Linked DNA regions of Homo sapiens: region 2 is linked to region 1. The links come from fine-mapping of genetic effects on gene expression. A gene starts in region 1. The other region holds a variant in brackets. All regions are shown on one strand. Distances are from middle to middle. Region 1 holds the start of CMTR1 (cap methyltransferase 1). Region 2 overlaps LINC02520 (long intergenic non-protein coding RNA 2520).

Region 1 (5,372 bases):
AAAACAATTAAGAAATTACATAATATCATAAAAATACTGGTTTTGGTTTACTTCATAATGTTTGAAAACATGAAAGAATTGGGAAAGTTTTTAAGCAGAGTAGGGAATGGAAGCAGTGAAATGACTTAAGACCGAGGAAACACAAGAGCGGGAAAGTTATTGGGACTGGAGGTAGCTATACCACAGAACTCAGTTACGAAAACAACAATTTTAAGGACAGAAATCCACCTCCACAAAAAAGAGTGGAAACCAGCTGGGCGCGGTGGCTCACGCCTGTAATCCCAGCACTTTGGGAGAAAGAGGTGGGCGGATCACCTGAGGTCAGGAGTTCAAGACCAGCCTGGCCAACATGGTGAAACCCCATCTCTAGTAAAAAAAACACAAAAATTAGCCGGGTGGTGGCACATGCCTGTAGTCCCAGCTACTCAGGAGAACCGCTTGAATTGCTGAGGCGGAGGTTGCAGTGAGCCGAGATCACACCACTGCACTCCACCCTGGGCGACAGAGCAAGACTCCGTCTCAAAAAAACAAAAAAGAAAGAAACAGGCACCATGCCACCATCAATCATCCATCCCCATGGTTAGGTACATGAGAGATAAGCACGAGAAAAAAATAAGATGGAATGAAGTGATTATGAAACCCTGAAATCTTAACGAATTATCAAGTTAAAGAGCAAGCAAGAGAAGTAGTGAATACAGTGTGGCTTACACACAACTGATTGGCTGTAGAGAACTCAGAAAAGAGGACTCAATACAGGGTGGGCGACAAGCTGGGAAACAATCCTTAGGGAAGGCGAGGTACAGCAAGAAAGTATTGAAACCCAAAAGTGTCACTGATGCTCCCAACCTCGTAAAACCCTGGATCACATGTTTCAGTTCTCTCCAACTCAAGGAAGAGCCAATCAACCCAATGCACAACCGCCACCTTCCTGAGAAAGCAGCCTCTTACTAGATACAGGCAGGGGCTGTCCCAGGGAAGAACCGGAGACACTGAGCAAACAGAAAGCAAGACCAAGCTAAGCCACATTTCACTTTAAGCCGTAGTCTTAAATACCCCCAAAAGGCCCCCAGGGTGAGATAAAGGAAGGCTCATCACAGAGCTTGCTTCTAGCCATTGCAAGCGCTAAAAGCTTTTAATTCTTAAGTGACTCGGGGGGAGACTGGAAGTACAGCAAACTCAAAGCGGACTGTTGAACAGCTGTGTGAAAGGCAGGAGAGGCGGATGCTCCTCCCCAAACCACATCACCTTAGATTTGGGCCTTCCAAATCATCTCATCCAACCCTATCATCTTCCACGGGAAAAGACTGCGGCCACAGAGGTGAAGGCCACACAGCTAACCAGTGCCCTGCTCAAGTGACCCACACATGCCAGCAGAATGCTCTGGCAGGGAACTTCTAAGCGGAAGGCAAGCGGCCTGGTTCTACCTGCTGCTTCCGCACAGAAGGGGTTCAAATCCCCTCTGCAGTCTTCTCTCCCTGGGCCTCGGTTTGGCACTGCCACCCCTAATCACAGAGAGAAGAGATAAGCTCCCATGTCTCCCGGCCAGTCCCTTCATTTGAAGATAACATGAGCGTGTGAATGTGTGCGCAGAGACGTGTGTCAGCGGCAGCTCGGGCTCCAGGGAGCCGGCGTTGGGGGTGGGAGGAGGAGGGAAGACATAAGGGGCCAGAAGGCGAGGAGACCCATAACCGCGGGCGGGGGGCCCAGGCGGCGGTGGAGGGGAGAAGGATGCTGAGCCCGCGCGCCCGCCCGCTTGCTCCCCCCGGGCCGCGCGTCGGCACTCACGCTGAGGGGAGAGAGCGAGCTGCCGGGGAGCGGAGGGGGGGTCAGGCCGACACTGTCGCCGCCGCTGCCAGAGCCGCCGCCTCCTCCCTCAGTTTCGTTTCCCCACAAGCCAGCCCGGGTCCGCCAGCCGCACCGTCGCGCTCGGGTCCAGTACTGCGGGCAGCGCAGCCTGATGACGTCACGGACAGCGCCGCGCCTCGGTCCTCCCCCGGCCGGGTCCCGGCCCCGGGAAAGGCAGCTGAGGTTTGGCCCGCTCCACCTCTCAACCTGGGAGGTCCAGGGGCGCCTGCGCGGAAAAGCCGCCCGGAAAAGGCTGCAAAAGCAAAAGTAACTATCTCCTCCTTTGGCTCTGAGGAAGAGAAACCAATACAAAAATTGTAAGTGCTAGGTGCCCTCACACGACCTCATCTTACTTAATCTTATCATTATCTTCATTTTACAGACTAAGAACAAGTTCAGAGAGGTAGATGGTAAACTGGTTGAGCGAACGCAGTGTTCTTGTTCCCTGCTGTATCCCCAACATCCAGCCTATGGGACATCTCAACAGATTTTGAACGAAGGACGGGAGGACAGAAGGAATGCCGCCTGTAGCATCTTACCATATGGGCACAGTTGGCTCTCCATCTCAAACCTCTCTTCTGATTTTCAGGCCAATATGGCCAAACGTCTGTTGGACATCCTCACTCAGTCACCTCAAACCCCATGAATTCAAATTTCACCTTATGTTCTTCCATCAGCTCACTTTTTTCCTGGTGAAGGGCGCTGCCATCCATCCTGTTGGTCCAGCTAGAAATCTGAGGAATCTCCCTCTTCTTCATACCCCAAAGTTTCTCATACACTTAATTGCGCTTACCTCCTAATTGTCTTTCAAATCCATCCATTCACCCCCATCCCCATTGCCACAATTCATGCACTTACCCCCTCTCGGCAGAATTTCTCCAGTAACTCCAAACTCCCGTGACTGTCTCCAGTTGTGATCCCTCTAATGCGTTCTTCACAAAACCAAAGTGATTTTTATAATTTTCAACACCTGTGAAAAGAAGGGAATTTAAAATTGATTAATTAAACCTGATCCTGTCACAACCCAACAATGATTAAAATCCATCAATGATGTCCCATTGCTCTTAGAATAAAGCTAATGTCCTTAAAATGGCCTCTGAGACCCTCCAGCATGACCCCTTCTTCAGGTATGCCTTGTACTGCTATCCCTTAGTTCTCCCCATGCTGACTCTTCTCAGTTTATCAAATATGCCGTGTCTCCGCCGGGCGCGGTGGCTCACACCTGTAATCCCAGCACGTGGGGAGGCTGAGGCGGATGGATCACCTGAGGTCAGGAGTTCGAGACCAGCCTGGCCAACATGGTGAAATCCCGTCTCTACTGAAGATACAAAAAAAGTAGCTGGGTGTGGTGGTGCGCACCTATAGTCCCAGCTACTCAGTAGGGTAAGTCAGGAAAATCGCTTGAACCTGGGAAGCAGAGGTTGCAGTGAGCAGAGATTGCACCACTGCACTCCAGCCTGGGCGACAGAGCCAGACTCCATCTCAAAAACAGAACACAACAAAACAAAACATGCCATGTCTCTTAAGAGTTCAGCCCCCTGCCTGGATCATGCTTCTCCTCTTTGCTGGGCTAATGTCCATTTATCCCTCAGGAGTCACTTTAGTGTCCCTATCTCGAAATATTTCCTGATGTCACAAATCTAGGTTGGGAGACCCACCTCTGAGCTCCTAAAGCACTCTGTCCTTCCACTATCAAAGCACTTACCACGGTGTTGTATAATGGCCTGTGGACTCATCTGCCTCCCCGACTCAGCTGTAAACTCTGTACAGGAAAGATTGTCTGTCTGTATTAAATTCACAAGATTTAACAGAGGCTGGTGGTCAGTGCTCAATAGATATTTACTGAATCTGTGGAAGTGTGGAATATGAATGAAGGTTGAGTGATATGTTCAAGATTACAGAGCTAGGAAGCAGCAAACAGGTATTTACCTAGTTCTCTATGTTCTAAAGTTTAGTGTCCTTCTTTCCACCTCACTGAGGCTTCTTAGCATGCATTATGACATGAACACTTTTGGTAATCTTGTAGAGCTTATGGACCCATTCTCAAAATAATAATTTGAAGGGTATAAAATAAGGTATAGGAAATGAGTTATATTGAAAAAGTTAACATATTTAGCAAATTTAATGATTTAATTTTTATGTAAAGCATTAAATAATGAGAGAATGCATTCAAAATATAGTCAAGTTAAAGTTAAATTTTATTTTTTAATGTATATGAGTATACCCAATGAATAGTGCTGGAAAAAACAGATAAATATATAGGGAAACACGAACTTTGAATCTTTTTTTTTTTTTTTTTTTTTTTGAGACGGAGTCTTGCTCTGTCACCCAGGCTGGAGTGCAGTGGCACAATCTCCGCTCACTGCAAGCACCACCTCCAGGTTCACGCCATTCTCCTGCCTCAGCCTGCCGAGTAGCTGGGACTACAGGCGCCCGCCACCACGCCCGGCTAATTTTTTGTATTTTTAATAGAGATGGGGTTTCACCGTGTTAGCCAGGATGGTCTTGATCTCCTGACCTCGTGATCCGCCCACCTCAGCCTCCCAAAGGACTGGGATTACAGGCGTGAGCCAACGTGCTCGGCCCACTTTGATTCTTACTTTATGCCAAATGCAAATTAAGATACATCATAGACCTAAGCATAAAATCTAAAATGATAAAGCTTTTAACAGAAAACACAGGAAAATATTTTTGCAGACTTAGGGTAGACAAAGATTTTTTTTTACATGGGACCCAGGGAGCATTAATCGAAAGAAAAATAATGATAAAATGGAGTTCATCAAAATAAAAGGCTTCTACTCAACAAAAGACACCATTAAGACATTGAATAATCAAACCACAGAATGAGAGGAAAAGATTCACAATACATATATCTGACAAATGACTTATCTCTTATATATATATATACACACACACACATATATATATAAAATACCCAAGAATAAAAAGAAAAACAGAAATTTCCAATTCCTGTCAAAATGGAAACAGCACATTTCATTCTGTTTCTCCCACTGAATGTAATTTAAAACCTTAGACAGAATGCATGGAACAACTATCTGAGGATTCTGAAAAGTAAATGGTAAAGTATAAAGTAAATGGCAGGAATATGGAGAAAGGAAACCAGAAGTCAAAGAACTGTCAAATCAAGAGTGAGTTTCCCAATTTTTTTCCCCTTCGTTTTCTCCCAACTTGTACTAAAAGGCAACCGAAAATGCACATATTTTGCACAACAATGCGAATATAGTTAACACTGCTGAACTGTACACTGTTAAATTACATTTGGCTTAAATCTGCCTCCATACATAACATAATCTAATAATATGTAAACAAACTGTAACCTAACTTGAGAGTATATTCTTTTTTTTTTTTTATTATTTTTTGAGACAGAGTCTTGATCTGTCATCCAGGCTGGAGTGCAGTGGCACAATCTCAGCTCACTGCAACCTCCACCTCCCGGGTTCAAGCAATTCTCCTGCCTCAGCCTCCCAAGTAGCTGGGACTATAGGCACATGCCACCACGCCTGGCT
Region 2 (5,372 bases), 94 kb before region 1:
TGCCCCAGCAGGCTCCAGGCAGGAAGCCAGTCCAGCCTGCCATGCCCTCTCTCTGCTGTGCCTCCTCCCTCACCCAAGTCACACTCCACACGCTCAGGTTCCTTTGTGGTGGGTGTTTTGATTAATTTTATTCTAATTAATTCAGTAATCTCAAGCTGTTTGCAAAATCTTGCACCAAGCACTGCTCTGTGATGGATCTGCAGAAGGGGCTACAGACAAACACCCGAATCGTGTTGTTTCTCCATTGGCACTATATATATCTTACGGCTGGGAGAGAGTGGGCTGGGGGAGAGCAGCAGGACGCCGCCTGCCTGCCGGCTTTTCACTGTCATTCCCCAAATGTCCTCTATTTTCCTGCGGCCAGGGCACGGGTTCTATGGTTGGGGCACAGGGACCCCGAAGGCTTTCCTACAGGCAGGCAGGCTTGGTGGCAGGGCTTTGTGCCCTACTCTGCCTCTTCCTCTTTGTGGAGCCTCGGGTGGTTTGCTTAACCAGCTTTGGCACCCTCACCTAGAAAACGGAGATGAGCTGGGCGCGGTGGCTCATGCCTGTAATCCCAGCACTTTGGGAGGCCGAGGTGGGTGAATCACAAGGTCAGGAGTTCAAGACCAGCCTGGCCAAGATGATGAAACCCTGTCTCTACTAAAAATACAAAAATTAGCCGGACGTGGTGGCAGGTGCCTGTAATCCCAGCTACTTGGGAGGCTGAGGCAGGAGAATCACTCGAACCCAGGAGGCGGAGGTTGCGGTGAGCTGATATTATGCCACTGCACTCCAGCCTGGGCAACAGAGCAAGACTCCATCTCAAAACAAAACAAAAAAAAGGAAACGGAGATGAAACGCCTACCCTGGCCACCTCAGAGGCACTGAGAGCCAGCTGGAGTATGGGGACAGGCTTGGGAAACTGAAAAGACCTTAGGGTACTGCTGATGTCTTTATCCGAGAAGCCGTAGAGGGTGATGGGGAAGAGTCAAACCAGATTTCCTGGGTTGGAATCCTGCCTCAACCTCTTACTAGTGGGGAGCTTTGCAGAGGCTACTTCACCTCTCTGTGCCTCAGTTTCCATGCCTGTAAAATGAGGGTGAAAACAGAACCCATCTCAGAGGGTTCTTATGATTAAATGAATATGAGCAAAGCTTTTAGAACAGTGCTTGGCATGGAGTCAAGCACTATACAGGATAACTATTATTATGGTTATCTTAGTTGTCTTCATCCCTTCAAAATCTTCCTAGTGCATTGTAAATGCCTTCTCTGATTAACCAGAATGCAACTTGCACTCCAGTCTCAAAGCACTCATCCTTCCCTCATTTCTCTGAACATGTTAGTCTTGGCCCATAACTGGTTTCCTCTCCAAGTGGCCAATATCTCTCACCCCAGGTCCATAACTCCCACCATGGTAGGATTAAGGGGGCTTGGTCCATGACGGTTCCAGTAGTCCTATCCAAAGGGGACTCGGAGGCAACGAGATGATTAGAAGGGAGTTCATCTTAAAGCTGAGTCTGCTAAGTACACACAATGATTCTACTTAAAATCCAAATACAGGAAGGTTTTCAAAAATTGAGGCAATGTCAGTTGTGTATATGAAGGGTTATTTTTCTTTTCTGTGGAAGGACATTGGGAGGGACATATGGAAATGGGGGACATCCCTCCCAGTACACTTTTGGCACCTGTACTCATGCCATGAAGAGGAAAACAACTGACCCAACCAACAGGGCAATAGAACAGGGTGGGAGGTGATGCTTTAGGTGGGTAGTCAGGGAAGGCCTCTATGAAGAGGTGTCAAGCCCTGAGAAAAGGGAGAAAAGCCCATTGTGTGGCAATATGAGTAAAGAGCACTCCAGGAAGAGGGTACAGTGTGCAAAGGCTTGAGGCGGGAATGAACTTGGGGGTATTTGGGAGACAAAGAACAGCAGCTGAGGGGGACAGCAGGATAAATTAGAGTGACGAGGCCACAAGGTCCAGGCCAAGGGCCATCAGCCATAATAAGGAGTTGGATTTCATTCTAAAGATGCTGGGAGACTTTGGAGAGTTTTAAGCCAGAAAGTGACCTGATTTCATTTATGTTTTTAAAAGACCACATTGGCTGCCGCTCTAGCATTCATCCATCCATCCTTCCATCTGCTTATTAACAAGATTTCCTGCATACCTACTGTGTGCCAGGGTCTGTGCTGGGCACTTGCAGTTTAGAGTTGAGTAAGATATTGCCCTCCCTCGTGGAGCTCAGCATGGATGAGAAAACGAACTTCTGGTGCTTTCAGAAGCAGGGGTTGAGTGCCTGGCAGAGCAGGGTGTGCACTGCAGAGGAAGGACTGGGGCCCTGGGATTGGGGACAGGAAGAGCTATTGAGAACAGTGGCTCTCCAAAGTGAGTGGCATCAGAATCTCCTGAAGGGCTTGTTAAAAACAGATTGCTGGCCGGGCACGGTGGCTCACACCTGTAATCCCAGCACTTTGGGAGGCCAAGGCGGGCAGATCACCTGAGGTCAGGAGTTCAAGACCAGCCTGACCAATATGGTGAAACCCCGTCTCTACTAAAAATACAAAAATTAGACGGGCGTGGTGGTGCGCACCTGTAGTCCCAGCTACTCGGGAGGCTGAGACAGGAGAATTGCTTGAACCCCGGAGGCGGAGGTTGCAG[T/A]GAGCAGAGATCATGTCACTGTACTCCAGCCTGTGACAGAGCAAGACTCTGTCTCAAAAAAAAACCCAAAAAACAAAAAAAGATTGCTGTGCACCACCTCCCCCCACCTGCCACACAGATTCTGATTCAGTAAACCTGGGGTGGGCCTGAGAATTTGCATTTTTAGCAGGTTTCTAGCTGGTTCTGATGCTGCTGGCCCAGGGACTGCGCTTTGAGAACCACTGTGTAGGAGGATCTCAACTTCTATGGACCAGAAAGGGCTATTTCTAGGAATTCATCTCAGCACCCGAGGTGTGGACAGCTCCCCAACTGGCTCTTCATTGTCATCCACCACTCAGGCCTGAGACAGGGAGCCCCCTGAGGACAGCATTTCCCCGCCATCTCCCTCCACCCACCACCCACCGCTTGGTTTCCACTCAGACCCCTGCCTCTCCCTGCTCCCTCCTTGGGAAGCACATCCTCAAACTCTGTCCTGCAACTGAAGGAGCAATTTCACTCTCAGTCACCTTCACTGATTCCTTTCAGGATGCAGAAGACCTCAGTTAACACTGCACCCGCCTCCTGGCCAGCCAACTGCCCCCATCTGTTCCTTTCCCAAAACTGCACCCTGGGCTGGGGGACTTGGGATCCCCCAGCTCTGTTATCTGCATGCCACAGGCCTGATTCATTTCACAGCCACATGGTCAGATGTCTCCTCACCCCCTTCTCTTCCTGCCCCCGCCTTTCTCTGAGCTCTGAATGTCCCCTTTTCACCCAGTCATATTTCCCCAGCCCCCTCCTCTCCTCACTCCTTTGCCCATCCCATCTGTGATAAATTTGGCAGATTACCCCATGAAAGCCTAAATTATCAGTGTTCCTGGTCACTTTGGCCCTTAGTCCCTTAGAAAGACAGTGTTGAAATTGCAAGCATTCATCAGAATCTGAATTTCAAAATTTCTAAAAATTCCCTAATTGAGGTTGTCTAAACTATCCTTCAAGACCAGAACTCTCCTTGGATTTTTCAGCAGGCGCTTGAGCCCAATCCCTCCTCCTCCACCAGATTGCAAACTCCCTGAGAACAAGAAGCTCAGCCGCTCAACTCTGAGCCACTCAGTCTAGCACCGCGACCAGCTCCTAGTAAGTACCTAGGAGGTAGCCACTTTATTATGACTATTACCATGATGGCATTGTTGCTGCTGTTATTGCTATCTGCTCTGCTCTCCTCATGCCTTGCTCAATGCCTTGCACACAGTAGGGTCTCAGCAAAGTCTTACAGGTACACAGATGACAAATGTATAGTTGTCATCCTCACCTCACTGCTCTTGCCTCCGACTACCTCATTCGCCTGTAACAGCTTCTCCCTCATTTGCCTTTTTTTTTCTTTTCTTAACTGCTGCGATGTTCTGAGCCAGAGCATTTGAAAGATTTTTGTGCAATAACTCCCCACCCCCACGCCTAGATCTTCGAGGCCTAGGAGATTAGTGTCAGGAGATTTGGTGGGTAATGGGTTCTGGGCAGTAGAAAACAGTCCCCTTTACAGAGATACAATTATACAGGTTATACTTCCCTGAGTTCAGACACAGCCACAGACCTCGGGGAACCTGGTGTCGGCACAGATGGTACATGGGGCCACATTATATGGAATATTCTCCACTTGCTATAAAACTGTTGACAAATATAGGAAACGAGATGTTTTTCTTTTCCATGTTTTCTTTTCTTTTCCTTAGCCAAACACTGCGGGCCCTCATGAGTCACAAAAGTTTTGAGATATTACTCAGAAATATAGGAGGAAAGCTCCATATTTCCCCCGTCAAAGGTCTGGTTTTCTTATTTATTTATTCACATGCCACTGGGTAAATTGAACCCTGAACAATATTAAAAGGAAATAAACATATCTCTCAGCCGCTCACGGACCTAGCACTCACCAGGCAGCGGGATTAGCAACAAGCCTCCCCAGGTGGGACAAAGCTGCAGTATGGAGGGGGGGTGCGGGTCCAGGGGCCTGCAAAGCGGGGTCCCTGCAGCTCCCTACTCCAGGCAAGTCGAAGCTCCCTCTCCCCTGGCCAGCCTCCAAGACCCACAACTGACGCACACATTCACTCTGTGGCCATGGCAGCTCCCAGAAGGTGGAAAGACTCCATTTTTATTTCCACCTTTCCGGTACCTGTGCCTCTCACTGACCCATTCCAACACGCACACAAGAACACACACACACACACACACATACATACACACATACACACACACATCAGCAATGACGAACCAGCCCCAAACCATAGCGGAATGTCATTTCAGAGTCCTATCTGCATGGTTGAAATCAGAAGTTGGGATGCCTGAGACCATTCATATGGCCTGTTTACAGTCACTGAGAATTGATACTTACTTTGGGGGAAGAAAAAAATATACGTTTAAAATATATATATATACACACACACACACACACACACACACACACACACATCCCCACACACACACTCAGATACATATCGGTGGTGGATAGATGGATCTTTCTCACCCTGAAAACCATGACAGATGAGTTTTGTTTGGGCCTGTATGCATTTTAAAGGTGCATTTAAACTCACTAAATTAGAATCTGGATTGGTGGCGGTGCCCACCCAACCCTGGCCTCCTCTTCCCCTCAACAGGAAGGCAGCCAACCAGGTTCTCATTCAGAATTTAATCTTGCCTGAGTGGCGTGACCACTTCTGTCTCTGCTCAGTTTCTTTTTTTTTTTTTTTTTTTTGAGACGGACTCTC

What was found. PIP is the estimated chance that this variant, and not a neighbour inherited with it, causes the effect.
Region 2: its variant is the best candidate, but not a certain one, in a credible set for the expression of CMTR1 in blood mononuclear cells (TOPMed, PIP 0.79).

Annotation. Positions count from the first base shown.
Region 1 is chr6:37,429,791-37,435,162 of GRCh38, reverse strand. It overlaps CMTR1 (cap methyltransferase 1), which reads right to left and starts at 1,942. Exons shown (of 24, transcript NM_015050.3): 1 at 1,786-1,942. LOC107986531 (a long non-coding RNA gene) reads left to right here and starts at 1,940. Exons shown (of 2, transcript NR_171666.1): 1 at 1,940-2,112; 2 at 2,228-2,935. RefSeq lists a silencer at 1,597-1,786 and enhancers at 1,787-2,066, 1,759-2,260.
Region 2 is chr6:37,523,516-37,528,887 of GRCh38, reverse strand. The region is part of intron 1 of LINC02520 (long intergenic non-protein coding RNA 2520); the gene reads right to left. Among named protein-coding and RNA genes, the nearest start is that of LINC02520, 19 kb to the right of the region's middle. The variant T/A (reference allele first, on the strand shown) is at 2,638.